Regions from separate parts of the Homo sapiens genome. Here regions 1 and 2 are each linked to region 3. Evidence: fine-mapped expression QTL. A gene starts in region 3. Each other region holds a variant in brackets. All regions are shown on one strand. Distances are between the middles of the regions. Region 1 overlaps C5orf58 (chromosome 5 open reading frame 58). Region 2 overlaps C5orf58 (chromosome 5 open reading frame 58). Region 3 holds the start of LCP2 (lymphocyte cytosolic protein 2).

The links. PIP is the estimated chance that this variant, and not a neighbour inherited with it, causes the effect.
Region 1: its variant is the best candidate, but not a certain one, in a credible set for the expression of LCP2 in whole blood (TOPMed, PIP 0.76).
Region 2: its variant is the best candidate, but not a certain one, in a credible set for the expression of LCP2 in tibial artery (GTEx, PIP 0.76).

Annotation. Positions count from the first base shown.
Region 1 is chr5:170,245,349-170,255,508 of GRCh38, forward strand. C5orf58 (chromosome 5 open reading frame 58) reads left to right here. Exons shown (of 4, transcript NM_001102609.3): 4 at 614-883. The coding sequence ends at 765. It overlaps LCP2 (lymphocyte cytosolic protein 2), which reads right to left. Exons shown (of 21, transcript NM_005565.5): 18 at 7,771-7,865; 19 at 7,086-7,163; 20 at 5,382-5,537; 21 at 885-3,471. The coding sequence ends at 3,349. Among named protein-coding and RNA genes, the nearest start is that of C5orf58, 17 kb to the left of the region's middle. The variant G/C (reference allele first, on the strand shown) is at 2,813.
Region 2 is chr5:170,234,033-170,244,192 of GRCh38, forward strand. C5orf58 (chromosome 5 open reading frame 58) reads left to right here. Exons shown (of 4, transcript NM_001102609.3): 2 at 83-166; 3 at 945-1,038. The coding sequence starts at 945. Among named protein-coding and RNA genes, the nearest start is that of C5orf58, 6.1 kb to the left of the region's middle. The variant G/C (reference allele first, on the strand shown) is at 7,648.
Region 3 is chr5:170,293,068-170,303,227 of GRCh38, forward strand. It overlaps LCP2 (lymphocyte cytosolic protein 2), which reads right to left and starts at 4,710. Exons shown (of 21, transcript NM_005565.5): 1 at 4,467-4,710; 2 at 243-305. The coding sequence starts at 4,544. RefSeq lists enhancers at 3,813-3,892, 9,979-10,160.

The DNA.
Region 1 (10,160 bases), 48 kb before region 3:
ATGGTGGGCGCCCCTCCCCCAGCCTCGCTGCTGCCTTGCAGTTTGATCTCAGACTGCTGTGCTAGCAATCAGCGAGACTCCGTGGGCGTAGGACCTTCCAAGCCAGGTGCGGGATATAATCTCGTGGTGCGCCGTTTTTTAAGCCGGTCTGAAAAGCGCAATATTCAGGTGGGAGTGACCCGATTTTCCAGGTGCGTCCGTCACCCCTTTCTTTGACTCGGAAAGGGAACTCCCTGACCCCTTGCACTTCCCAAGTGAGGCAATGCCTCGCCCTGCTTCGGCTCGCACACCGTGCGCGCACCCACTGACCTGCGCCCACTGTCTGGCACTCCCTAGTGAGATGAACCCGGTACCTCAGATGGAAATGCAGAAATCACCTGTCTTCTGCGTCGCTCACGCTGGGAGCTGTAGACCGGAGCTGTTCCTATTCAGCCATCTTGGCTCCTCGAGAGCATAAATCTTATTTTAAGTCAGAATGGGACACACTTAAGTTGTGGTTTGATCACTAATCACTTGGAAATTAGGAATTAGGAAGAAATAGCTACTTAAAGCAATAATAGTTTTTTATGACATATGTGCTACAATATAATATCTCCTGTTTTGTTTTGCACAGAGCTCTCCCAGTTATTGCTTTGTGACCTTATCCTACATTTTAATCATCCCATCAAGACTGAGAACTTAGCAGAAGCAGAAAGAAACAACCCCCTCTTTGAAGAGTCTAAAATATCAGATGTATCCCTTGTTTCTAACAGTTTTTCTATCTGATTTCTTATTTGTTATGAGTTTCTGTTTTATTGTTGAACTAACAAATATTTGGGAGAGTTGAGTTTACTAATTTGTATATATATAATTTAAAACAAAATAAAAATAATGTAAACAAGCAGTTCATGTTCTTGAAGGCTGTTTAATGTTTTGAAGAATGGCTTAACTTACGTCACTAATGGCAAGTGTATGACATAGGAAATTGGCCATGGGTCACTGCTTATCCTTTAGCTTATGCTTGAATTTGGCTCAGGTTGAAAGAGAGCTACTAAATTATTAATTGATGGAATGAGTTTTTATTAATCAGAACTCTCCTGGTAGTGAACGCCAAGCACAACTCAACCAGCTGAAGCATTTATTGAGTCATGTGACTTGGAAGCACATAGTTGGAATAGATTTCAGGGATCCCACTAATTTGTCCATACTTTTACTGTGTTTTTGTGTGTTGGCCTCGTTGTCTTCTATTGTAGACTGGTTCTTCCAGATAATTGGTAAATGGGAGTAGTTGCAGGGCAGCAGGCAGCTCCAAGTGTACAGCATTGCCTTTGGGGACCCCAGATAAAAGAGAGATCTTGTCTCAGGCTTCATGTTTAACATTCCAGAGAGTGACCCTGATTGACCCAGCTTTAGTAAGATGTTTATCACTGAGCAGGGTTCTGAGCAACTGTGACTGATGCACCTGGGGTCATATAGAAGGTCTGTGGCCAAAAGAGGCAAGGCCCAGCCAAAAGGAGTTGTCGGTGCTTGAACAGAGAGAGAATGCTAGTCATGAAAACATTAGCTTCCCAACATTGATTTCAGTCATAGCCATGGAACAGAACATCTTAATCCTGATGGCACTTTCCACTAATAGACTTAAAATGAGCTTTGGTTTGTTTTATAAACATGATTCGCTACCAAATAGTTGCTTTGAAATCTATCAGGTCCTTCATTTTAGATATTTTTGAATTGTAAAGATAGAATACGGCAAAGCAAGACAAGTGGAGCTTACTCGATACTAGAACCTATGGTGTATGCTATCCTTACTACCTTGTACCTAGCTCACTTGTTTAACACAGAAGAGCCACTAAGTAAATACTTGCTGAATAGCCCGTTGTGTAGACGTGTAAATGAATGCAGGGTTTTCAGCCTTAAACTCCCAAGTTTTGGACCCTAAACTGAGAACTTCTGGTTGTTAAGGATGAGATTTTGTGAAACACCATTTTTATCATCAGTTAAAAGTCTCTACCTTCTGCATACTCCTTATTTTAACATATCATCAGTTTTAAAATGGTGACTTCTTAGATTCCTTCCAATACCCCTTTTATTAGCTCATGAAAATGAAGCTGCAAGATACTCTTTTCCATTTCGAAAACTTGTAGATTAAGCAGAGACGCCAAAAATTGTTGCTAATAAAAGTTGTGCAATAACAACCAAGGTCCCAAAGGGAAAAACTTGAAGAACAACTGATTGTCACTATTTGGCTGAATACCAGTTTTTTAATCTGGCTGAATGCCTATATTTTTTGTTAAGTGATATTTGTAAACTGGAGGAAAGAGTTTAATTACCTCAAAGCACTTATACAGCCTGTTTGGGAAGGATGAGGAGAAGGGACTTTATGGCAGAGCTGTCAGGGGGATAACAAGAGACAGAAGAGCCATATCTAATAGGAAAGTCTGATCACATTTAATCTAAAGTGTTGCTCCCTCGTCTTCCCAGGAAGCCTTTGGTAAAATCTATATCCCTGGACAATGCTTTTGGGGTTGGGAGAAGGTTGGTGGGGGGCTGTGATGGTTGGTGTGGGTGTGGAGATGTGAAGAAATGCCAACTTAACCCCAGATGTGTTCATTAAACCTAGACCCACGATACACCAAAGTCTCATCCCTAAATTTAAAATGTTTTCTTTTGGTATTTGTAGTTTAAATTTTCTTTAAGACAAAAATATAACAGTATGGACTAAAAGTCAATAAAGTTGTTTTAGGAAACCAAAAAAGTAAAGCAAAAGACTATTTTAATCCCAGAAGTTATCTCAACATGCATTTGTCTTTTCATAAAAAAATTACGTAAAAAT[G/C]CCCCCAGGAAAAAATACTAAATAAGAGTGAAATTATATTTTTGAAGCCTCTTAAATTATTGCTGCTGAGAAAACGAGGTTTAGTGATTTTCAAATTACATGTATAAAACTAATGAATGCCTCTGACTGACAGAGGTTTGGCTGTAAAAAACAAATCAGTTTTATGTGACACCAATAACTATTACTGTTTCAGTGTTTTAAAACTTGCCCCAAATTGTTTCTGTAGCTGTGTAAACTACTGTATTTTGAAATGGGCATTAAATAATCTTTTAAAAAATGAATTATTACAGTGCACTACTAGACTTCAAGTGTGAACATGACTCATGCACTTTACAAACATTGAAGAAGAATAAATAAATTATGGGATAGTTGACAGTCTTCATTTCAAACACTGTTTTTAAAGGAAAGGATAAAACCCTTGTGTTCATGGGGAGGGGTTCAGTTCAGTCCTAAGTGTTTGTCCATTGACCAAGGCTGATTGATCTCGTGTTGGCAACAGAGGCAGGAGGACGGTTCATTTGCTCGGCTATAACTTGCTATGGGTACCCTGCAGCATGCGTTAATGTGCACTGGTATCTGGAACCTCGGTTTTTCCCATCAATGAGCAGAAGTGGCATTTTCCTGAAGTAGTCAATAATATCTGACACAGACAGAAAGTCCTGAAAGAGTCAAGATAGGGAGATGAGTCAACATTGGAATGAAAAGCAGGAACTTCACTTTCAGTTTTTTTATCTGCATAATATATGCTGCCTCTTCAAGTGATGAGGATTGTGGGGGGAAAAAATGTAAATGTGGCAATTAGTTTAATGATTTCTGCTATAGAACTTTGAAAAAATTCCTCATAAACATCCAACAAACCATAGATAAAGATAAAATATGGGCCGGGTGCAGTAATTCACCCCTGTAATCCCAGCACTTTGGGAGGCTAAGGCCGGTGGATCACCTGAGGTCAGGAGTTTGAGACCAGCTTGACCAACATGGTGAAACCCTGTCTCTACTAGAAAATAGAAAAATATTAGCTGGGCGTGCTGGTGTGCGCCTGTAATCCCAGCTGCTTGGGAGGCTGAGGCAGGAGAATTGCTTGAACCTGGGAGGCAGAGGTTGCAGTGAGCCGAGATTGCGCCATTGCCGCACTCCAGCCTGGGTAACAAGAAGGAAACTCCATCTCAAAAAAAAATAGATAAAATATGTGCATGCGTGTGTATATATATATATATATATCTACATATCTATATATATATATATGTAATTTGAAATGCATATATTTTTAACTTCATATGAAGGGGTCATTTAAATAGTCACTATTACAATATTCTTGCCTCGGGTTGCTCTGTTTTTGGTTTTGGTTTTGGTTTCTGCATCTCTATTTCACCCCCAGTCATTAATAGTGTTAGGAAACATAAGGACTCAGGAGGTCAGACACGGTTCATGGTGTCTAGAGGTGGGATCTGCAGCATGGCACAGGAGTTCCTTCATGATCTCTCTGCTGTGTCCTCACTGCCACCTTCACACTCATAAAGGCTCAGCAACCAATATTTGCAGCCATAGCCTGGATCGCCCCAGCCTTGATTGCTTGCTAGAGAGGGAAAAGCCTAACTCATTTTTCTAGATGTGGGTCACAACTCACCTAGGAACCCTAACAGGATAATGCACTTCCTTTAAGACTAATCTGCTAGGTGCCTCCCTCCATGGGAGCTGCAATGAGTGGTTGGTCTGCACTTGTGTGTTTCCACACTGGACCAAGATAAATCTTGAAGGGCAAATACCTCTGCTCCTATAGGGTCTGTGCAGCTCTATCCACTGCCAACCAGCGATTCAAACATTTGATCACAAGCATGCATTTTTTTTCTATTCATTAACATTATCATAACAGAAGTATGTGAAGCAGAAGTTATGGGTAAGCTGTTTCTCATTCTGGACATGTTTGATTCAGCTGGTCCTCCTCTTGGAACTTTGAACTTAGAGTATGTTTGGGGCGTTACCTTCAGTTGTTAGTTTCCTTTGCGAAAAACTAGCCCTGAGGGTTTCTTTCCATCCGTTCTGATTAGCACTCAAAAAGTGACTGGCATGAGAATCTAAACCTTGGCCTAACAGAGAATTTCTTTGGCGATCTGGCCATCCTCACAGAGCCAAACCTCCATTTTGTTAAGAAATGAGCCAAGTATTTGAATAATCACCCCAGCAAATATTCTAATTTTTCCCCTTTTCCAGGTGGTGTCAACTTAAAATGCAGCCTACGTTAAAATTATGCCACAGAGGTGAATAATAGTGGGAACTTTCCTTTGACACCATCTAAATAGATTTTTTTAAGTTAACATAGTTTTTCTTGATTTTGAAAATTATACATGTGATTATTTGAAAGAAAAGATATACAAGAAAGAATCCTATGGCAGAAGTAACCATTGTAAAGATTTTGCTTTATTTCTCTTCCAATAAATGAAGGGCTTCACTCATGTGATTTAATCCTAAATTTGCCATACAGCACGGACTCTCAAAGATCGCTCCATGAAGGCATGCAGAGTGGCATAAATAAAGACTTTGGGAAAATGTCGAAATTTGAAATCCTTACCTCTTTCCCTCGGAGTCCAGTTCCCAACAAGTAAACTTGACTTTCCTTCTGATAACGGATCTGGATGTTGTAAACTTTATCTTTGTACAACACCATGAGGACATATGGATTGGTTGTTGTTTTTTTAGAGCTGTCTCTGACCAGAAATGTGCCATCCTAAAAAGACAAATTCCTGTTATTATGGGAGCAGTAAAAGTCAATATTTTTGTTGCTTGTAAGAGTAGTAGACAAGCCTCTAGGGATCTGACAAACATGTCAGTTGCACTTTGCAGCTTCTTGAGTGCAAAACCTGTCATTCAACGAACATTCAGTTCTCCAAACAGCTACATATCCCATGTGTCATGAGTTATTTTGTTATTAAGAAAGGCAACAGAGATTGTATCAAAGAAATTTCCAAGTCAATCTCGTTAAAGCCTCCTGATAAAAACGGAATCTTTTGTTCAGTAATAAATAATGGGTGGTTGAGTGGATAAAAGGCCAGGAGAAATAAAATACTTTATTGGTTAACTCAAGATATATCTTCCTAGTATTCCTGTGAGTTAATTCCCTAAACTTTCTTTTCCACATCCAAAGTCAGAAAACATCCACATGCCATGAAATTCACCCTTCTTAAAACCCTGTGATCTCTAGATAGTCTTTCCTTCATCAGACCCTTGAGCAAAATTGAATGCAGATGTTCTCTTTTCTTTTCTTTTTTCTGATATTTGCTAAACTACTGTTTTGATTGTCCTGTACTTTAAATTTCCATTCAATAAATTATTGCTACATAATATTAATACTGTAAAGATCTAATATTAAAATAGAATTAATTGGTAAGGACTCCTTTAAACTACTCCCTTCTCCTCATACCAAATCAGGATAGCTTTAAATAGCCATGAGTTGGCAATAATGACTTTCCTTTGTTCCTTTTATTGCAAGTTAATTGAGCCTGTCAGAACATCTCTGCTAAACAAACATACTTCTGGACCAGTGATTCACAGTCTTGGCTTCAAATTAGAATTACCTGGGAAGTTTGAAGACTCCCAGAGCTGACACAGCACCCCCAGAATAATTAGAATCTCAAGGTGAGACCCAGGAATCGGGATTTTTCAAAAGTTCTCCGGGTGATCTAAATGTGCAACTACTACTGAGAACTACTGGTGTGGAGTTTAAGTGTGAAAGATGAAAGATTTTTGCTTTCCCATTTCTGATAAATAAATCTAAGGTAAAGTTTCGGCACTGGCTACGGGAAATATGTTTAAGACTTTATGATATTAAAGGACTAGCTAGAAACGTCTAGGGCAAAAAGCAAAAAGTTGCTGCCATCTCTTTAATATTGGTCCTTTCACATCAACATGGATGGCACGTCTGTGTTAAGAGGAAGATAGAACTGGTACGATGTTGGAACTTTGAAAGAGAGTCTCCTTCTGACACCATGTGATTCCTATGACAAGACAGACTCTTTCATTAATAAAATCTCCTAAGATGCTGCCAACCAAATGACTGCCTTGAGATTCTTCTGCCAGCCTAATGATTCCCGAGCCTAGGAATCCCTGCTATGGGTGCTGGTAGTTGTGAAGCTGGCACTAATGGGTCTCCTAGGTATTACAGAAAGCAACAGCACCTAGCAGAATTCCTAGCCTGTAATTGGTACTCAGGACAGGTCAGTTCCCTTCTCTGCCATTAATATTTACAACTATGTTAAAATAAACTATAGCACAATACCTGGTTTATCTTTCTAAGAGCAGCTTCTGCCTCTGGTCGGGTAATATAAGAAACGTACCACTCTTCATTTAATGAATTCTGAAAATGTAAATTTTTAGAAACTGAATAAATTTTACAGTTACAGATGTAAGTGAAAAGAAAAGCCTCTGAGTAATCATTTCCATAAATCAACACCTCAATTCCAGGAGGTCTGAAACATTTGTTTTCTTAATTTGCATTCAGAGTCATTTAGCTGGGGCTAAATAGAAGATATTTTGTGCGAACTGCTTTTTATCATGACACTGGTTGCAAAAATGCCTGTGAATAAGAGTTCCTTACAGTATGGAACCTCTTCAGGAAAGATACAGATACAATAATTTCTTCAGTTTAGCATAATAACCTGCTTGATTAAAAAAATGGGTTATTGAGCAGTTAAGTGACGAATCAAGGTCATAAACATAAAAAACAGGATTATTTTTCTTGCTGTTTAATGCAAAACACATGTTTGCCATTGAAAGCGTCTGAAAGAACGCCAAGGGAAAAGAACATATTGTTCATCTGGATCTTCTCCTTTAACTTTTTTTTCAAATAAATAAAATAAAACAAAGGGAAGATAAAAGTACAGAAGAACATTCAATGGGAGTTTCTGGTGATTCTTTTACCAGGGAAAAGGCAAACAAACAAAAATAAAAACATGCTCTCTTACCTCTTCCTCCGCGGGGGATGGGGGCCGAGGTTTGTTTGGAAGTGGCAAGGGGAAGTTTCTGCCTTCGGCTCTGATAGGTGGTCTGTTGCTAGGGCCTTCAAAAGTATAGAATTCTGACAGTTAATTTACTGTAAGCTATTGTTTGCTGCTATCAAAACACAAAACACATTCCCCCCACTCCCCCAAAAAAATACCCTTGCGATTGGTCCTATAGTTCGCATTTTAAGAAACAAGGGCTTCAAAAATAATTTTCATCTGTTTGAAACCATGGGGGCTGCTCAGGCATTATTCTGTAATCATGCCAGTAAAACTTTGAGAAGAGAACCTCAACTTTGAGTGATTTTTCTAAATGTGCATGTTACATAATATAAAGTGACTAGATCCCTTTATAAAAAAATTCGCAATTGTTTTAATGAATGTGAACGTCAAAATGAATGCTCAAGAGACAAATTTTTCATAGATTCTTATAATATCATCATAGGCAGAATGGATTCCCAACAGCTGATGTAGGGACAATGCAATGATGAAGATAATTATGTTCTTAATGTTTCCACAAAAAGAAATGTAAGTGACCCAAGAGAAGACAAAATTACCTTGAGAATATTGCTAGCTTTTAGAATCAAAGTTGGCTACCCGCTGTTCTAACTAAACAGGTAGACTGTTCAACTCACATAGAAGGCACTACAGATCAGGAAGTTTTTACTGGGCAACTATTAATTACCCAGTGCTTGTGCCTCATCTTCTCTAAAACTCTTTTTTCTCATTTACAGTTCCTTGAAACTTTAGGAGAATGTTTCCTAATCTCAGGAAAGGTTTAGTTGTGTTTATTGCAGTTGCCCAGGGTATTTTCTATGTGCCAGGCTGTGGTTAAAAACAGAAAAATTCTGTGAGTCAAATGTTCTCTTAATTATTTAACCATCATTCATTCATACCTTCAACAAATATTTATTCAGCACAACTCTGTCCAGATCTTGAGTAAGGTATCGTGTGTACATTTTTTTTAATCCTCACAGCAACATTACAAGGTAGGTATTGTCTTCATTTTGCATATGGGGAAATACAGGCTCAGAGGCTAAGCAAATCATGCGCTATCAGTGGCAAAGCCAAAACTTAAACCTGTGGTTACCAAATGCTACTGTGCATGAGTCAGAATCCCTGGGCGACTTGCGAGCACCTGGGGCTCAGAAATCTGCATGTTAGCAAGTACTTCCGGTGGTTCTACACCACGGATTGTCACTACGTCTACCTTGTTACACCACTGAGGAGAGGAGAGTCACCTGTAAGGGCTAAAGCCTCCTGAGCCGCATCATCAAGATTATTTATGATGGTCCTTCCCTGTTTTTAAACAAGTCTCCTGAGCCACATCAACAGGATTGTTTAAGATGCTCCTTCCCTGTTTCTAAACAAGCTGGCCCTGAGCTGCCAGTGCCTTCCTTCTCCAAGTTCCCAGTGCCTAGACAGATCTTCCCCATCCCCATTTTTTTTGCAGTCCAACACTTGCACTTTTATAATGCTTGTTGAATGAATGAAACCTAACAATACAGGAGAGTAACAGAACCAAGGCCCGCATTGCATGGCCATTCTACAGTTAAGAAATGATTCTCTTTCTGCCTCTGCACCTGCAGGCCAGCATCATAGAGTTCTAAGTTACAACAGAGAAGCACATACACTTTTTTATTGCAGTCACCTACCACCCTTAATATCTAGACTCTCAAGGGAGTCATGACAGGTTTTTGGGCAATGCACAGCACAAACTTTATCCTTCTGATGTTGGAACAACCAGTAGAACCAGTAGAGAAGACCGAGGACCAGGTGTCCTGGCAGTCTTAGGGGAAAAGAGATCAATTTGGATCAAGCTAATGTTCCAAAAATAATTAACTATTTGCATTAATAAGCCCCATCACAGACTCATAAAACTGGAGATCTGTGGAACTTGCTTTGGAAAATAATGCTGTGATGTGTCTGGGACTCAGATGGCTACAGAGGCAAGGAGGTAACACAAATGTGTGTTTGCAAAACACAGAGAATTTTGGGGATTGTGGAAAATTAGGGGTTGGGCGAGAAACTGTGAAAACCATGTGGTGAACGTGGACACCACCATAACCTCAAATGCTTAGAAAACATTGAAAACTTAGTGGGTGCCACTGGCGTCAGCAGTGGGATCTCGCCCCTCTATGGAATGATGCATCCAACTGAATACCCTAGATGTGTTCTTGGAAAAAATGTTGATTCTCAGGCTATCAACTCACATTTACTAACATAGTTTTCTACTGAACACACACTGGCCCGTGCACACACTGCATGTGGAACATGACTGCAAAAAAAGTGGCTTTTCTGTTGTCATTCTTCACAGCATTTTTTAAAAATTTAAGTCAACATTTAAAAATTAA
Region 2 (10,160 bases), 59 kb before region 3:
GAAGGCAGCTGACATCCTGGAGAATGGGGTCTTGGGGGTAGATGCAAAGCGCATTTTATTAATGTCTGGGAAACAAAATTAGTTTTTTTACAGTGGCTCTGAAATGAGAGAAATTGCAGAAATTCTCCCTGCTCAGGAAAAGGTAGAGGCAAGGATTGACTTAAAGGTTAGTTTGTTTTCATTATTTTGGACAAGCAGCTTGACCCATGACTGCCCACCTTTCACACTGCTGGAGTTGTGTATGCTAATTGAGATGGAGTTTTTCAAGTCATTTTGAGAGACTGAACAGCTTAAGACTAGTTTCTAGTGAACCACCTCTCTGTATATTTGTATCTGACACAATTGGTTAAATACAGGTACTGTATAACATAGGAATGCGTTGATTTATACATTTCAGTTAACCAAAATTAAAATGTCTGTTACTCTAACTCCCAAAACCAAACCAGCCATTTGCCATACTCTTAGTGGATTATAATTGAATTATCCTCTTAATGAATTAGAATAAAATTCTTTTTTGAGTTTCACTGTGTACTTAAATCATATGTGGGCCCTGTTATTCAAGAATAAGTTAGAAAAAGACATGGACTTACATAAACAAAATTAGAGAAGATCTTAACACAAACGCTAAATTGTAAGGTAGTTTATAAGGGCTGAGGCTTTCTGAAAAGGGGACATCTTCATTTCCATTGTAAGCCCTATCTTGTGGATATGGTTTGATTGAGGAAGGAACCTCATCCTACAAATTCCAGTTGGAGTTTTTAGTTGGAAAAATATTACATAACACATTAATGCCTTTTGATGTTAGAATTCTAACCATTTATAAAGATTTGTTTCATAATTATTTCTGAAATAACAGATTTATAGAAATACTGAAAATGTAAGTATTTTAAAAGTACACATAAATACTGATTTATACATTGTTTCTGTTTTTCTTTTAAAATCAGATGGGTAAGAAGCGTGTTACTGATCATAAGCTAAATGTGGACAAAGTAATTAAAAATATTAACACAATTTCTTCGGAGTTGAAGAAGATAAAAGGTAAGTATTGAATCACTAAAATGTTTGCATGTCATTGTTATAAAATAAATGATAGAGCCAGTTTGTGTTTCTGCTGGGGTATAAGTAAATTTTGCCCACTAATTAGGATTTCTCTATTTCTTAACAAATGTTTTCAGTGTAAGTGAACTAGATCTCTAAAGATGAATTATGTTCGACTTTGGAGTTAGCAGACCTGAATTCCCATCCCTGACATTAATAAGCTTATCAGGTTGTCTAACCTCTGTAAATTTTACTTCCCTTCCTTCCCTTCAACACACCATTCAAGACTATGTCACATTCAGCAAAATTCATTGTCTTTATAAATTCTTACTAAGCCCCTAAGGTCCATTCCAAATTAAAAAGTATAAATTAGATTCTGTGACTTAAAGCTTCTTCATTTTAAACAGATTCATATAGTAGGATTAGACCTTATAGGTCATGATGTTTAGTCGCTCACCTCACAGACATATTCAGTTATTTTATCCCAAGAAAATTTCTGTGATTGAATATTTCTAGGGATAATCTATCCCTGACCAAACATTTCTTATGCTGGGGAACTTCCTGTCTCACTAGTCAATCCATTCTATTTTAAACAATTCCTTCTCACCAGCTAGCTGAAATCTGTTCCCCTATTGCTTTCACCTAAGAGTCCTATTTCTAACCATGAAAACTACACTGAATATGTAGTTATTCTTTTTAAAACAACTCTTGGGTATTTAAAGATAACCTGTGTCAGTTATGAGGCCTACATCTATAAGTAACAAAAAAACCAACTTAACTTATACAATAAGGAAAAACAAGAAGATCCAAGGTAGCAGAGCCCTAAAGTTAATTCAGAGGTTTAAAGATTTTGTCAGGGACCAGGCTCTTTCCATCTTTCTGCTCTGTCATGTTCACTCTCTTTATTACCCCTCATGATCATTACCTTCAGAGGTGCTCATATATAGACAGTCTCTTTTTATAAGTCTCCTCCCAGATCCCTCCAGCACAGTTCCCTTTCATTGGCCAGATTTGCATCACATGCTGATGCTTACAGCAGCCACAGCTAAGGGGACTGGGACTGCCAAGACCAGTTTGGACCACTCAGAACTTACTACAGGAGCTGGGGAAAGGAACACCTCAAACAAAATCAAGCTGTGACTCCAAGAAGAAGAGGGCATGGCCGTTCGTTAGGCACCAAATAATGAGTGCCTAATATGCTTTTTCCATGTGTTCTCCCTAGGACAGCATTTCCTGGACTTTGATCTGTGAACCCTGCTGTTTCAAGCAATGTTAATAGATGGTGTACAGTAGAACAGAGTCAATGTTCTTATGGCCAAATAAGTTTGGAAAGTGCTTTATGCTACATATTTCACAAATTTACAGTACATATTAAGAAATCTGACTACCTTTAATTCATCATTTCTCAAAACCAGCTTCAACACCACAGTGAAGATTCTCCTTCTAAAATGCGAATCTGCAGAAAACCCTCATTGGCTCACCATTGTCCTCAGGATAAAGTCTAAACATCTTAGAATGGACTATATGACCTGCTCAGATCATTCCCCTCCTTTCCCCTCTAGTCTCTTACTCTGTTCTTACTGCATGTTCTATGCTCCAGCTGTACTGAACTATTTGCATATCTCCACAAGTGCTTTTCTGTATCTGTTTCAACACATACTTGTCTGTCTGAAATCCCATTGCTATACCCTACCTCCAACACACCAGGTTAACTGCTAGTAGTCAAGGTCTCTTACAATGGAAAACTTTTTTTGAGCCAGCATGTTATCCTTTCTGCCTTTTGCTATCACCTGTTATACTATTTTATAATTGCATATTTCCTTACTTTTCTTATCCCTGCTCAACTGTAAGCTCCTTATGGGTATTTCTAGTACTTAACACGGTGCCTTGATTGATTCGATTCTTAAAAAATTTTTATTAAATGAATAAATGGTTCTGGATGCTTGAACTCATTTAAAACAGTTAAGAAGCTTTAGATTCCCCCCAAACTTGATTATCTAATTGTTCTAGTTTGGAGAATATTCTTTCATAAAATAAAATGTAATAACTATGTGATAGATGTTTTCTTGAGACATTGTATGGGTAGGTCAGGCAGTTAGACTCTGAGGGACCTGTAGAGCTACGCTAGGAAGGTAGACTTCTGGTAAATGTAGAGGATTAAATGAACACTCTGTGCACCCTCACTTCCTCCCCTAAATAGTAATGTCAGCAGCCAACCTTTACAGAATTTACCATAATCCAGGACTCTTCTAAGAGCTCTGCATAAATGAACTCTCTTCATCATAATCCTATGAGGTAGGAACTATTGCCATTGGCATTTACAGATGTGTAAATAGAGAGATTTAACTTTTTCAAGGTCAAGCAACTAGTCAGTGGTACACCTGAGATTTAAATTTAAGTGATTTTTAAAGAGACAAAAATCCACAAGTAAAGAGATTCCAAGAAGAGATAACAAAACAAAAGGCAAATGGAGAAGCAAATAGACAAGTCTGAACCCCAAAGCCCAAAAATCTGAACCCTAAGCTGGCTGGGTAAAGCCAAAAATAGCCCCTACGACTCAATTCATGGTGGCACCAGGATCTTCTGGAAGTAGGGGTGAAATTTGGATAATAGGAAGACTAGTTAAATATATAAGAATTGTAGATCCCTGAGGTCTCTTCTGCCCTCTGCATAGCTGGGCAGCTATCCCTTCACTGTGACAAAAGACTTGAGGTTAAAACAAGGATATTTGCCCTGGAACCACTAGTCATAGGTTGAGGGAAAGTAGTATACTGTAAAGAAGGACACTGAAACAAAGTTTACTTACAAAATTACAAGACCCCCAGTTTTTTTTCCTTCACTGGGCTACCAAAATACTGGCAGCCAGATTTATACCCACCAAGTAGATTTTTCTCTCAGGAATCTGACCAGCCTAAGATAAAAGATCTAAAGATACTAATAGCAGAGGTTCTCCCAACAAAATAACCCAGCCAGAACACCCCACATTATTGAGTACCACAGGTGCAGAACTTCCAATTGTCTTTTTAGTGTCACAGTCTTAAATATGGGCAACTAAGGCACAACAGATACTTGAGGGACAAATCTAATATTAAAAAGCAGAGAAAAAATCAACAGATTCAATGAGGAAGAAACAAATAATGAGGGGAGATGAAAATTTCAAGAAATTATTAATATTCAGAGAGAAGAGAAGATACTGTATCCATGAAAAAGGAACTACATACTATAAAAAATATTCAGAGAACAAGAAGGAGCTCTTGGAAATTAAAAATGTGACCATAGACATGAAAAACTCGATAGAAGGGTTGAAAGGTAAAATGAAGAAATTCCTCTAGAGTGTAAACAAAACAAAAGAGATGGAAAGTGTTGGTGATGGGGAGGAAAAGGATTAGGTAAGTGAAGGAAGTCCAACATCCAACAAATAAGAGTGTTAGAAAGAGAGAACATACACAAGGAATGAAGGGCAATTCATTAAAGAAATAAAGAAAACTTCCTAGAGTTGAAGGGCATTTGTTTCTACAATGAAAGAGTCCACCACAGTGCATGAAAATAGGCTCATACCAAGGCAGAATGTTGTGAAATTTCAGTCTACTGAGAGAACAAAAAGATCTGTAAAGCTTCTGAAAACAAAACAATCATATGAAAGTTCTCATATGACTCCAGCTTCACTGGAACCTAGAAGACAATGCAGCAGTGCCTTTGGAAATCTGAAAAAAATATGATTTCCAACCTAGATTTCTATAGCTAGTCAACCTAATTAAGGATTAGTGTAGATAAATTTTCAGACATATAATTTTATTCCCTCTGGAAGTTACTGAGCCTATATGTCACCAAACAAGGGAACAGATCAAAAAGAGAGACACAGGAATCTGGGGAAAAGGGCACTCCACAGAATGGAGGGATAAAAGGAGTCTCTAGGATATTAGTGAAGGGAGTTCCCAAGATACCAGCTGTACAGCAGTGCTAGTAAGCAATCAGTTCAGATTGGAGCAAATCAGAAGGCTCCAGGAGAGGAGAGACGTTTAACAATAGAATAGCTAAGGTGTTGAATAACCCAAGAGCAAATTTACTCAATTGGGGGACATTTAGGATATATTTCTGATAATGCAGCAATGCAAAAACCCAATTATTACCTCTGGTGGGTTGCGTGCAGGAAGGAAAATGTCATATGACAAGACTCAGCTATGAAGAATATTTGTATAATTAACATTTAAACATTAGATAATTGAGCTAAGCAAAAATTTTTCCTGAAGTATATTGGGAGAGAAGAGGGTGTGTGAAAGAGCTGTATCTTAATCTTCTGTGTCAGAGGCAGGTAACACTGAAAATTGAAAAAAAAAAAATCAAATCTCAAAAAATTTAAAGTTACAGAGGTAAACACCACCCCACCACTCCCCACAATAAAAATACTCAAAACAGACACACTGAAATGACCAAAGCAACAAAAACAAAGTGAGCTATAAAAAAAAAAAATTAAAATGGTTGCCTCTGGGAGATTGGAACTGCAGTTTTTTTGTAACATGCCTTAGACTTATCTGATTCTTGGTACTATATGCATGTATAACATAGATAAAAATAAGTTAAAACCATATAAATCAAATTTGTATAAATCAAGTTGCAGTTTAGTGATATAGCCGAGAAGTTGGGCTAAAGAGCACCCTTTTAGTAAGTTTTTATGTCATGCTTATTTTGTAATAACATAAATCTTATTTTTTTTTTAATTATACTTTAAGTTTTAGGGTACATGTGCACATTGTGCAGGTTAGTTACATATGTATACATGTGCCATGCTGGTGCGCTGCACCCACTAACTCGTCATCTAGCATTATGTGTATCTCCCAATGCTATCCCTCCCCCGTCCCCCCACCCCACCACAGTTCCCAGAGTGTGATATTCCCCTTCCTGTGTCCATGTGATCTCATTGTTCAATTCCCACCTATAAGTGAGAATATGCGGTGTTTGGTTTTTTGTTCTTGCGATAGTTTACTGAGAATGATGATTTCCAATTTCATCCATGTCCCTACAAAGGACATGAACTCATCATTTTTTATGGCTGCATAGTATTCCATGGTGTATATGTGCCACATTTTCTTAATCCAGTCTATCACTGTTGGACATTTGGGTTGGTTCCAAGTCTTTGCTATTGTGAATAATGCCGCAGTAAACATACGTGTGCATGTGTCTTTATAGCAGCATGATTTATAGTCCTTTGGGTATATACCCAGTAATGGGATGGCTGGGTCAAATGGTATTTCTAGTTCTAGATCCCTGAGGAATCGCCACACTGACTTCCACAATGGTTGAACTAGTTTACAGTCCCACCAACAGTGTAAAAGTGTTCCTATTTCTCCACATCCTCTCCAGCACCTGTTGTTTCCTGACTTTTTAATGATTGCCTTTCTAACTGGTGTGAGATGGTATCTCATTGTGGTTTTGATTTGCATTTCTCTGATGGCCAGTGATGATGAGCATTTTTTCATGTGTTTTTGGCTGCATAAATGTCTTCTTTTGAGAAGTGTCTGTTCATGTCCTTCGCCCACTTTTTGATGGGGTTGTTTGTTTTTTTCTTGTAAATTTGTTTGAGTTCACTGTAGATTCTGGATATTAGCCCTTTGTCAGATGAGTAGGTTGTGAAAATTTTCTCCCATTTTGTAGGTTGCCTGTTCACTCTGATGGTAGTTTCTTTTGCTGTGCAGAAGCTCTTTAGTTTAATTAGATCCCATTTGTCAATTTTGTCTTTTGTTGCCATTGCTTTTGGTGTTTTGGACGTGAAGTCCTTGCCCATGCCTATGTCCTGAATGGTAATGCCTAGGTTTTCTTCTAGGGTTTTTATGGTTTTAGGTCTAACGCTTAAGTCTTTAATCCATCTTGAATTGATTTTTGTATAAGGTGTAAGGAAGGGATCCAGTTTCAGCTTTCTACATATGGCTAGCCAGTTTTCCCAGCACCATTTATTAAATAGGGAATCCTTTCCCCATTGCTTGTTTTTCTCAGGTTTGTCAAAGATCAGATAGTTGTAGATATGCGGCGTTATTTCTGAGGGCTCTGTTCTGTTCCATTGATCTATATCTCTGTTTTGGTACCAGTACCATGCTGTTTTGGTTAGTGTAGCCTTGTAGTATAGTTTGAAGTCAGGTAGTGTGATGCCTCCAGCTTTGTTCTTTTGGCTTAGGATTGCCTTGGTGATGCGGGCTCTTTTTTTGGTTCCATATGAACTTTAAAGTAGTTTTTTCCAATTCTGTGAAGAAAGTCATTGGTAGCTTGATGGGGATGGCATTGAATCTATAAATTACCTTGGGCAGTATGGCCATTTTCACGATATTGATTCTTCCTACCCATGAGCATGAAATGTTCTTCCATTTCTTTGTATCCTCTTTTATTTCCTTGAGCAGTGGTTTGTAGTTCTCCTTGAAGAGGTCCTTCACATCCCTTGTAAGTTGGATCCCTAGGTATTTTATTCTCTTTGAAGCAATTGTGAATGGGAGTTCACTCATGATTTGGCTCTCTGTTTGTCTGTTATTGGTGTATAAGAATGCTTGTGATTTTCGTACATTGATTTTGTATCCTGAGACTTTGCTGAAGTTGCTTATCAGCTTAAGGAGATTTTGGGCT[G/C]AGACGATGGGGTTTTCTAGATATACAATCATGTCATCTGCAAACAGGGACAATTTGACTTCCTCTTTTCCTAATTGAATACCCTTTATTTCCTTCTCCTGCCTAATTGCCCTGGCCAGAACTTCCAACACTATGTTGAATAGGACTGGTGAGAGAGGGCATCCCTGTCTTGTGCCAGTTTTCAATGGGAATGCTTCCAGTTTTTGCCCATTCAGTATGATATTGGCTGTGGGTTTGTCATAGATAGCTCTTATTATTTTGAATTACATCCCATCAATACCTAATTTATTGAGAGTTTTTAGCATGAAGGGTTGTTGAATTTTGTCAAAGGCTTTTTCTGCATCTATTGAGATAATCATGTGGTTTTTGTCTTTGGCTCTGTTTATATGCTGGATTACATTTATTGATTTGCATATATTGAACCAGCCTTGCATCCCAGGGATGAAGCCCACTTGATCATGGTGGATAAGCTTTTTGATATGCTGCTGGATTCGTTTTGCCAGTATTTTATTGAGGATTTTTGCATCAATGTTCATCAAGGATATTGGTCTAAAATTCTCTTTTTTGGTTGTGTCTCTGCCAGGCTTTGGTATCAGAATGATGCTGGCCTCATAAAATGAGTTAGGGAGGATTCCCTCTTTTTCTATTGATTGGAATAGTTTCAGAAGGAATGGTACCAGTTCCTCCTTGTACCTCTGGTAGAATTCGGCTGTGAATCCATCTGGTCCTGGACTCTTTTTGGTTGGTAAACTATTGATTATTGCCCCAATTTCAGCTCCTGTTATTGGTCTATTCAGAGATTCAACTTCTTCCTGGTTTAGTCTTGGGAGAGTGTATGTGTCGAGGAATTTATCCATTTCTTCTAGATTTTCTAGTTTATTTGCGTAGAGGTGTTTGTAGTATTCTCTGATGGTAGTTTGTATTTCTGTGGGATCGGTGGTGATATCCCCTTTATCATTTTTTATTGTGTCTATTGGATTCTTCTCTCTTTTTTTCTTTATTAGTCTTGCTAGCGGTCTATCAATTTTGTTGATCCTTTCAAAAAACCAGCTCCTGGATTCATTAATTTTTGAAGGGTTTTTTGTGTCTCTATTTCCTTCAGTTCTGCTCTGATTTTAGTTATTTCTTGCCTTCTGCTAGCTTTTGAACATGTTTGCTCTTGCTTTTCTAGTTCTTTTAATTGTGATGTTAGGGTGTCAATTTTGGATCTTTCCTGCTTTCTCTTGTGGGCATTTAGTGCTATAAATTTCCCTCTACACACTGCTTTGAATGCGTCCCAGAGATTCTGGTATGTTGTGTCTTTGTTCTCGTTGGTTTCAAAGAACATCTTTATTTCTGCCTTCATTTCGTTATGTATCCAGTAGTCATTCAGGAGCAGGTTGTTCAGTTTCCATGTAGTTGAGTGGTTTTGAGTGAGATTCTTAATCCTGAGTTCTAGTTTGATTGCACTGTGGTCTGAGAGATAGTTTGTTATAATCTCTGTTCTTTTACATTTGCTGAGGAGAGCTTTACTTCCAAGTATATGGTCAATTTTGGAATAGGTGTGGTGTGGTGCTGAAAAAAATGTATATTCTGTTGATTTGGGGTGGAGAGTTCTGTAGATGTCTATTAGGTCCGCTTGGTGCAGAGCTGAGTTCAATTCCTGGGTATCCTTGTTGACTTTCTGTCTCATTGATCTGTCTAATATTGACAGTGGGGTGTTAAAGTCTCCCATTATTAATGTGTGGGAGTCTAAGTCTCTTTGTAGGTCACTCAGGACTTGCTTTATGAATCTGGGTGCTCCTGTATTGGGTGCATATATATTTAGGATAGTTAGCTCTTCTTGTTGAATACATCCCTTTACCATTATGTAATGGCCTTCTTTGTCTCTTTTGATCTTTGTTGGTTTAAAGTCTGTTTTATCAGAGACTAGGATCGCAACCCCTGCCTTTTTTTGTTTTCCATTTGCTTGGTAGATCTTCCTCCATCCTTTTATTTTGAGCCTATGTGTGTCTCTGCACGTGAGATGGGTTTCCTGAATACAGCACACTGATGGGTCTTGACTCTTTATCCAATTTGCCAGACTGTGTCTTTTAATTGGAGCATTTAGTCCATTTACATTTAAAGTTAATATTGTTATGTGTGAATTTGATCCTGTCATTATGATGTTAGCTGGTGATTTTGCTCATTAGTTGATGCAGTTTCTTCCTAGTCTCGATGGTCTTTACATTTTGGCATGATTTTGCAGCGGCTGGTACCAGTTGTTCCTTTCCATGTTTAGCACTTCCTTCAGGAGCTCTTTTAGGGCAGGCCTGGTGGTGACAAAATCTCTCAGCATTTGCTTGTCTGTAAAGTATTTTATTTCTCCTTCACTTATGAAGCTTAGTTTGGCTGGATATGAAATTCTGGGTTGAAGATCCTTTTCTTTAAGAATGTTGAATATTGGCCCCCACTCTCTTCTGGCTTGTAGGGTTTCTGCCAAGAGATCCGCTGTTAGTCTGATGGGCTTCCCTTTGAGGGTAACCCGACCTTTC
Region 3 (10,160 bases):
TTTCCAGATTATTTGTTTACTATACTTGGATTCCTCCTTAAGGTGTAAGTGGAAGATCAGAGAGGGGTTCTGGATGATAGGATCCTGAAAGGTAGTGAGAGAGGGGGCCCTACCAAATTTCTGGAAAAAGCAAAGGGATCCTCGGGTGTCCCCAGGGAAAGGGTAGGCCAGTTGGCCCTGCAGCCATGGGGAAAAGTGCCGAACAGTCTTGGTTTCAGTGTGTTGGACTAGCCAGAGCTTACCAAGAAGCGAGCCCCATCGATGTGGTACTTCTTCACTGCCTTCTCACAGTCCTTATAGTTGAGCTGCAAAGAGAAGGGGAAGGTGTTGTTAGTGACGGGCAGTCTCTTACCATTGGTTCCTCTCCCTTGCCTGCCCCAGAAACTTAGCACTTTGCGGTACTTGTGGCTAGCCAGGCTCCCCACTGCCCTCCCTTGGCTAACAGAGGGCCCAGTCCCCACCTCAGCCTCGCTTTCACTACCCCCTTGGGACTGCCTGAAATGGAGAAATTGCCTTGCTCTAAGGCTTCGGGGCCAACCCTTACAGAAAGACTGCCTTCAAGGCATGCAGAGCTCTGCCCTATGCTCCTCAGGAAGGAGAGCTAAAAGAAGAAAAGAAATACCATCCATTGTCTCGATGCCCAGAGACGACCTCGGTGTTTCTTTCCATGCTTTCTTCCTAGCATGTTTCTAAACATAATTGAGGTTATGATTTATATTCAATCTCATTATTCTGACTTTTTTCTCTTAAATTACCTAAAGGGATAATATAAACACTGCCTAGTGTTATGCAAACTCAATTTAAAATAATTTTAATGACCACAACATTATTTAATCATGCCCTTATTGCTGAACATTTAGATTATTTACCAAGCTGCTGTTTCAATAATGATAATAAAAACGGCGAACAATTATCGAAAGCTTTCTGTGTGGCAGGCAGTGTACCAAGTAGTTAAACTAGTCTTCAATCATTTAACCCTCACATTTTGCAGATGGGGAATGAGAGGCACAGACAGCAAGTAACTTGCATGAGGTTCCATGGGTTTTAGGTGACAAGTTTCAGAACAGGCTTTAATGTCTCTTTCAGAAATATTCCCCTTTTAATTACAGCATAACTTATATACAGTAAGTAAAATGAGCAAATGAAAATGCAGCTTCATTTGTTTGCAGTACCTCATCCCAATCAAAATAGAGACAATCATGGATACTATTTTGCGAACTTTTTTCTCCCTCTTTGAGATAAATTGTTTAAGTCAGAACCTCAGAACCGAGTTATATAGGATCCATAGGAACGAGCATTTTTAAGATCTTGGTTATTTTCCTAGACCAATCAGCAATCATATGAGGTGCTAGTTTCAACTTGTCCTCAACAGCATAAATGTTCACATTTGAAGTATCTCTCAACTTGCTGCTTTGGGGTGGAGCATTTGAGGTTAAATGTTTCTCCTTGAGGATCCTAGGTTCTTCTCACAAGGGTGGGCCTCATGGTTTGTGGCAGCCTTCTTTTGGAGCACATTTTAAGCCATATTTTTATCTTATAGCTAGCAAATCCAAAGAATAAATACAATTGTTATGAAATCTTAGCTTGGAAGGGTGGGATGATTATCACACTCAGAAAGCTGACTTAGAAGTTGATATTGAAAGCACATCCCATCTATGGAGCCCTGGTATCCCCTTTATCTACAGGCAGTGGGGGGTAAGTGGTTCTTGGAAGAGTCAACTGCCTTTAATTCATCATTCTCACTGTTATCATTATGAGATAAACCAGATGATTTTGAAGAGTGCTAACTTTGTGTCTAGATCAGCAGAGAGTCCTGCAGACTGGGACCCAGGCATTTGATTCTGCTCCAGCAAGATCTAGGCTTGTGGACCTCAAATCTGTATTTTTAAGGAGCACCCTAGACGATTCCTATGGCATCCAGCATTGGTAGGCACTGGTCCAGAAAAGTTACCTGGATTTGTAGTAAGGAAGACTGAGGCCTCTAGAGGGAAAGAGGCTGGTCTAAGGTCACACAGTGAGCTGGGATACCAGCTGGGACCCCACCTGGGATTAGGACACACAGCTCTGAGCCAGTGCCTCTCCACTGCACGACCCAAGGATGTTCTCCTGCAAGTCAAAAGGAATTGGAGAGATTGAACAAATATGTAACATGGTCTCTGTCCTCAGGAGCTTATATTCCAGACACAGGACGAGGTACCCATGTCAGAGACAAGAAGACGCAAAGTCCCACCAGTCTGCATGGGTGTCCCCAGCTAGGAGCCAGTTAATAGAGAAGGTAAAAGGGCAGAAGGAACACGCATTAGGATCCATTTGTCTGCTGAGTGCCTTGCACACATCATTTGCTTTAATCCTCACAACCAACCCATTGGGTTAGTTACTGTTCATATCTCTATTTCACTGATGAGGAAGTTGAGGCACAGAGAGGCAAAGCAACTACAGGAAAGTCGCCAAGCTAGCAGGTGGCAGAGCCAGGGTAAAGTGTGTCCGACCTCAGAGCTGAGTCGAGAGCTGTCTCCAAGGGAGGCCTGACCCCACTACTTGGGTAGAGTTTGCATCTGCAGATCAATTCTTTACATGTCATGTTTGACAGCTAAGATCCATTCCCAAATGACTCTGCGGTCCATTCGTTTGGTAGTTTCTTTCAGGGGGCTGAGGTACTCAGAATCTGAAGGGTTTCTATCCAAGTCTGTGGAGGGACTAGAACTTCCAGGATCACAGATTTGCCTCAGTCTCCTAGTTTCTTCCCTCAGTCCATTTATGGCAGAAGAAGGAACCTGCCTGGGTGCTGTAGATTTGTCCTGGGGTCTGAGATCTCCAGGAAGAAAACTCTCCCTTCCCCCAGCTCAGGCAGTGAGGTCTTCCTGTACCATCCCTGACCCGTGGTCCATCTCCCTGTACTGATGGGAGTTTTAGGGATCAATTCTCTGTTGCTCAATTGGATTGTATAATTCTCCTGGTCACACCTGAATGTTAGGCCTATCTGTGCCTCTCAGCCCGTCCCAAGTCTTTCTCTTCATAATTCTCAATTCCTTTCTTTTTCCCTTATCAAGGTAACATGCCACTTTATTCCCTCTTGGCAAATTTTACCTTGTTGCCCTATCTTATTTGGTCTATATTTGAGCAAGATATTTAGAAACATCCTTCAAAAAACCAGTTGCGCAACAATATTTGCTGAAATCTAAGTTTATTATGACCTTGCAGAAGGAAAATAACAGAAATGAAAGCACAAAATATGGCAAAAAACAGGATCTGTGAACTGTACCCCTACCATACCACACCTAGTTCAACATGTTCTCATTTTCTTCTTCAGGTTGGGGGAGAACAGCTGTGACTATAAATGCCTCGGAAATGCATAGACCCCAGGTTTGGCTATACGTCCTAGGGAACCTCGTCTACCCTCTTGAATCTCAATTTCCCCAGGAAAAACACGAAGCTGAATTAGATGACTTCTACCATCTTAGCTTTACAATCTCATCTTTATGACAGTCTGGAATATCAACAGAATCCGATGCCAGCCTGCAGGGATGAGGGTGTTAGAAGCTTAACCGTCTCGCACAAGTCATCTTACCACATGGTCAGGGTAGAGGGACTATAACTAAGTCATGTGGCTTGAGATCTGCCCAAGCAGATGCGTTGTCCCCTTCTGCCAATGACCAAGCACAGGGATCCTTCAACCTTTCCTCTAAGTCCAGAAGATAAGACAGCAACGCTCTGGTCCCAGCACCGCCACAAGCCTCTTTTCCTCTAGGGGCCTCAGTTTTCATAGCTATAAATTGGGGCTCACATCAGTTTTCTGTCCTGCTTCACAAGACTCTCATAAGGCTCCAAGGAGACTGCCCCAGGCGGGAGCTTGAGGACCCCCCTTAGGGTCGTGAGCAGTGAAAGCCCAAATGCTGTGTCTGGCACTGCTCATCATAGTCCTCTATCCAGCCCTCCCACCCTGCCTATTCTTTCTCCTGCCTCCAGGACACCACGTCTCCCCTTTCTAGTAAGTAGCGTTGATCTCATTAGCAGTTACAACAGTTCTCTGCATCTCAGAGCATGGACTTTAAAACCAGATAGGTGTGGCTTGAGTCTTGCCTCTATCACATGTAGTCCCTAGGGCTTCGGACCATTTCACTTCCCTGAGCTGATTTTGCAGCTGAGTCAAGGGGATAACAATGCTGACCTCACAACATAGTAGGGAGCGCTAAATGGGACAGTGCCTGTGAGACACCGAATTCAAACCCTAGCACATAATAGGCACATACTCATTTGAGGGCTTCTGCTCCCATCCTTCTCTCCGGAACTCATGGTCAGGAAAACTCAGCGGTCTATATGGCGCTCACTCAACCAGTAAAGTTGCCATAGGGTTCCATTGCTATCTTATACACCTCCCACATTCTGCCCCAATTCCATCGTCAAGCCTCAGCTCAGCCCACCAAGGGCACTAGCATCATGACCATTCACACAAGAGCAAGGCTTACCTTCTTGAAATAGTCAGCAAGGCTGTCGGGGTCCCAGCCCAGGACCTCTGAGCGAAAGGGCACATTCCTCAGTGCCATGGCTGCTCTCCCGGGAAGAAGCTCACAAGCTGAGCATGGGCGCTTCACCCATGGGCAGAGAAGCTCAAATCCAGAGCTCGGAGGCGTTCTTGGCTCTTCCAACTCCCAGCTACCCTGTGGAACACCCCTGTTGGAGCCGATGTCTTTTCTGGCGTAGCCAGATCCCAGAAAGCAACGGCTTCCTCTGCGAACAAATATGGTCTCTTCTCAGAAAACGACTCAGCTAGTTTCCTTTACCACTTCCTCTGCTGGGCTCTAAATAAGTAAACAAGGAAGCCCAGCTCTGGAGGCTTGAGATGCAGAGAGAGCCACAGGGTTGGTAATTCCCCACTGGCTCCAGTCACCCCAACCCAGTAGGAGAGGCAATGAAGGGGTCTTAAACTCCAATGTGAGTCTGAGTAATTTTCCTTTAAACTCTGGGCACCCATATGTCTACACTGCATTCTTGCTCAGCTGGGGCTTTGCAGACCAAAATCTATCCTGACGGTTGACCTGAAATACAGACAATTTCCCACATCAGTGAACTGCTGGAGCATGTTTTTTTAATGCTTTCCAACCACTTTCCCCTCCCACCATCAAAGACTGGGATTCTTTCAGCTGCCTCTTTACAGTTGTCATGAGAGGGTCCTCAAGGAGTGAGTGAGTCAGGCACCCAGGGCTGAACAAGGTGCTACACTGTGCAGACAGGGCTCAGTTTCTGATATGACTATTTCTGTGCTATGCAACCTTAGGCAAGGAGTTAAAAGCTGGGAATCTCAGTTTCCAAATCTGTATAATAGGAAAACAGTGATTCTTCATATGCACATAAAACTTAGATGCATTCAACTAGACAAACCTAAAAAGAAAAATTAAAAAGAAAAAAAACTTAACAATTGCTATTGGTAGTGTCATATATTCCATTCACTATTGTTTCCACAATATATTTTATTCACTATTGATTCTGCCATATATTCTAGCCAAAGAGCACATTCCCTGGAGATAGGAGGTGAGAATTTGCTGTTTTCTTAGTTTCAGACATTGTTCATTTCTCATAACTGAACAACTTATTGGCAGAGGGTGAGTCCAGTGTATAAAAGCAACTATATTTGTGCAATAAGGCAACCTCTAAACACAAGTTACTACTTCATCTAATGCCACACACACACACACACACACACACACACACACACGAGTCATCTGTTCCAAGGCTGTTGCCTTTACTAAGTGATGCTATGTTGGTCCTTGAGGTGGTGCCTTCCTGAGGGTTTTCAAGCATAGCTTTGGCCATGCACAGTTTTCTTCTTATACACACTCTGAGGAGCCCCGCCGTCACGGTAATGCACCTGCCTCACAAGCTGGTGGGCAGCTTAAATGAAATACACATTTTGCTCCAGGCCCAGCACTAGCTCATCAATGTGAGCTGGTGTTAGCCTCACCTTAGAAGGTGCTGAGGGCATCAGTGAAGGTAGCCCAGGCCATTTGCTCCTTGCAGGGCCTCACACCTAAGAACTCTTTTCTTTTCTCTCTTTCTTTCTTTCTTTCTTTTTTTTTTTTTTTTTTTATTGAGACGGAGTTTCGCTCTTGTTGCCCGGGCTGGAGTGCAATGGTGCCATCTCGGCTCACTGCAACCTCCGCTGCCTCCCAGGTTCAAGCGATTCTCTTTCCTCAGCCTCCCGAGTAGCTGGGATTACAGGCATGCACCACCACGCCCAGCTAATTTTGTATTTTTAGTAAAGACGGGGTTTATCCCTGTTGGCCAGGCTGGCCTGGAACTCCCAACCTCAGGTGATCTGCCCGCCTAGGCCTTCCAAAGTGTTGGGATTACAGGCGTGAGCCATTGTGCCTGGGCCGCACCTAAGAGCTCTTTGTAGCTGATCATTCTGTATAAAGCACAGCTCTGCTGTACAAAAGCTCCATCACGGGTGAGAGGTCACCTGGTCTTTCAAATCACTAGCATAGCAGTGAACAATAAAAAGCCATTTGAAGAGAAAGAGAGAGAGAAATCACTTTGAAGTAGAGTAAGCACAGAAGATGTCATGGAATTAACTGGGATTTAAGCAGGGCCGTGGAGGATGGAGTAAAAGGGAGGGCATTCCTGACGTGGATCAATCAATCTCTCTCTCGCTATCTCTCAAAACACATGCCACCTATGAAAAGGAACATTCCAGATCATCCTTAAAAGTAGAAGCAATTTTACTTTATTTTATTTTAATTTCTCCTTTTTATTTGCTTTTGTTTTATGTTTAGAGATGGGGCCTCCCTCTATTGCCCAGCCTGGAACGCAGTGGCACAATTATAGCTTACTATAGCCTCGAACTCCTGGGATCAAGTGATCCTCTCACCTCAGCCTCCCAAGTGGCTGGGAGTACAGGCATGCACCACCATGCTCGGCTAATTTTTTTATTTTTACTCTTTTGTGGAGATGGAGTCTTGCTTTGTTTTCCAGGCTGTTCTTGAACTCTTGGTCTCAAGCGACCCTCCCATCTTGGCATTACAAAGCGCTGGGATTATAGGTGTAAGCCACCAAGACTGGCCTAATTTTCTTAATGATGTTCACCCCACTCAGGATAAGAAAAATCTACAAAAAAGCAGTTGTAATGAAGGTATCACTAAATATTAGGCTCCTTTAGAAAGAATTATCCAATTAATGTGGCCAAGATGGAGGATCCATGGAGCTCATTTAGAAGACAGACAAAGCAGCTAAGAAACCTGGATGACAATAATGGTGACTTTGAGAAACATAAAGAGACACGATGCCTTGAGCTCTTCCTATGGTCCAGAGAGCACAAGCTAAGAACTTCTTACTGACTGTCTTAATTGTTGGCACTATTGTTGCTCCTACTCTACAGAAGAGAAAATTGAGGCTCCAAGAGGTGAACTACTTGCCCCCTGAACCCAGCAAGTAGGGAGTGAATCCAGGACTCTTCCAAAGTTGATCTGAGTCCAGAGCCCCTGTCCTTGGCCATTTGCCACCTTGAGGCTCTGAGATGTTACAGAAACTGCCTAAGGTAGACTTGGGATTCAAACCCAGTCTGTCTCCAGAGCCTGCGCAGTTTCTTCTCTGTGGCCTCTGGTGAGGAGAAAGAGAGGTTGTCAATCTGAACAAGCTCAGTAAAGGATGCAGCACTCTGCATGAGGCGGGCACTTGGTGCCCCCTCCCCACAGAACCACAGGCCCATTCCTCAGAAAGGGCAGCTGGTGCAAGGGGAAGCATGTTGCTTCAGGCCTGGAGGCTTTCCTCTTCCCCAGGCCTTGCTGATTTCCCAACACTCACGAGTTTCACATCTCCTGTCTCTGGCTGGCGGGTTCCTGAAGCTCCAGAGACCGGGCTAGTTAGCCCCCAAGAGAGACTCAGGAGACCAGAAGGACCACTGTGACCCTGTGCAGGCTCAGCCGCAGGCCCCTCACCTCCAAAATGGGGCGGCCATGAAAGCAGCCTCTGGGTACAGCCCCCGACAGCGTGGCTGCCATGACCATGGAGGCCAGGGGCAGCAGCTGGGTGTACAGCATCTGTCTGTTGGCTTCAAGCATGAAGCAGAGCAGAGGGTGGGGATCCAGTAGGGCATAGTGATTTGAAGCAGTGGTGGGGATACCCTCGCCCATGTCTGTCTCCCTCCCCCAACCAGGTGGAGAACTCCGCAGGTACGAACGAGGAACGAGGTTACAGAGGCCTTCTTAGGCTTTGTGATGCATAGCTCAAGATTTGGGAAAAGGTAAACAACCTCTGAGCAGAATAAAAACAACATTCTAGGGGCTGGGCACAGTGGGTCATGCCTGTGAGTCACGTTGTGGGTCAATCCCAACACTTTGGGAGGCCAAGGTGAGTGGATAATCTGAGGTCAGGAGTTCGAGACTGGTCTGACCCATATGGTGAAACCTTGCCTTTACGAGAAATACAAAAATTAGCCAGGCGTGGTGGCATGAGTGCCTATAGTCCCAGCTACTGGGAAGGCTGAGACAGAATTGCTTGAACCTGGGAGGCGGAGGTTGCAGCGAGCCGAGATGGCACCACTGCACTCCAGCCTGGGTGACACAGCAAGACTCCCTCTCAAAAAAAAGAAAAAAAAAGACAACATTCTGCTCCTACACAGAAACAGGGCTCATGGAATAGGAATGATTTTTCTTTGTTTTTGTTTTTGGAGATGGAGTCTCACTCTGTCACCCAGGCTGGAGTGCAGTGGTGCCCTCTCTACTCAGTGCAACCTCCCCCTCCCAGGTCCAAGCAATTCTCCTGCCTCAGCCTCCCGAGTAGCTGGGACTACAGGCACATGCCGCCACGCCCAGCTAATTTTTTGTATTTTTAGTAGAGATGGAGTTTCACCTTGTTGCCCAGGCTGGTCTCAAACTCCTGAGCTCAGGCAATCCGCCTGCCTCGACCTCCCAAAGTGCTAGGATTACAGGTGTGAGCAACCACGTCCGGCCAAGGGATAGGAACCTTTACTGCACAACCAGTGGAGCCTGTGGACAAGAAAGCAGTACCTGCAGGGAGGCTGTGTCAGATTGTGAGAGTGGATGTGGGAGCAGCAAACTGCAGCCCAGGGCATCGCCTGAATCTCCTCCCCACCCCACCCATCACGTCCAGACTCCCAGCTCCCTCCCTTTCCATCTGACCCACAGCAGAATCATGTGGGCAGATAACTGCCTTCCTTCACCGCTAATTCTAGAGGCGAGAGAAATGCACAATTCCTTAGAAGAGACTTGGGAGTTGCAACTTCTGTGTGTGGGGCTGGGGGAAGGGTCTGGGGAGTTGATGCTTAGGGACGGGGAGAATGGAAAGCAGGGACTTTACAGACGAGAATGTGTTGACCTTCTTAGGAGAGGAACACAAGAAGTTAGAAGGTGGGTGGGAGGAAGTGCTTATTTGAATTTGACTTGGACAGAGGGTCCTGACCATGGGAGAGAGAATAAGGTGGTGGCACGTGGCCCAGAGAGGATGCTGACGTGACACAGACACCACAGGCAATCTGAGGATGCCCTTGCCCGTGTCCACCCAGCCTCACTCCCACCAACTTTTTAACATCTCAGATTTATCACCAGAGGCTGAAGTCCCTTGCTGTTGGAACTTCCTAGAGGGCCTGCATGGGAGCAAAGGCTGCAGCTGTCATCCTCACAGAGAGAGGGGGCAATTTTCCCCTCCATCCTTAAGGCAGGCAGTGGGAGCACCCTCCATGCCTGGGATCCTTGTGGATGGCAAAGGGCTCCACCACATGAGAGAGTCCAGTGGAGCGAGCGGAACCAGGAAGGGGTCCTGACTGCTCTGCTGGACAGAGGGGCCCACCCACTCCAGCAGCCACACTAGAAGGCACAGAACTCGGCAAGCCGGCCTCAGAAAGAGTGTGCAGGCAGGGGGAGACCTGCCTCCCGTGCAACGCATCCTCCATGCAGAGCGCCAGTGCTCACAGCACTCCTGCCGGCCGTGGGTGGGAGGCGGTGGGGAGGGGGCTGGAGCAGCAACCCCATAGGAGCCCTCCTGCAGGCCACACTCCGCTCTACCTCGACAGTCACTGAACTCCCTGCCCCCAGGCCTGGACACAGCTCTGACCTCCCCCGTCCTGGGAGCCGGCCAGCCTGTGCAAGGCAACGAGAAGCAATATTTTCCACTTCCTCCCAGTTGACAATTTCATTCTTTTAAAAAAA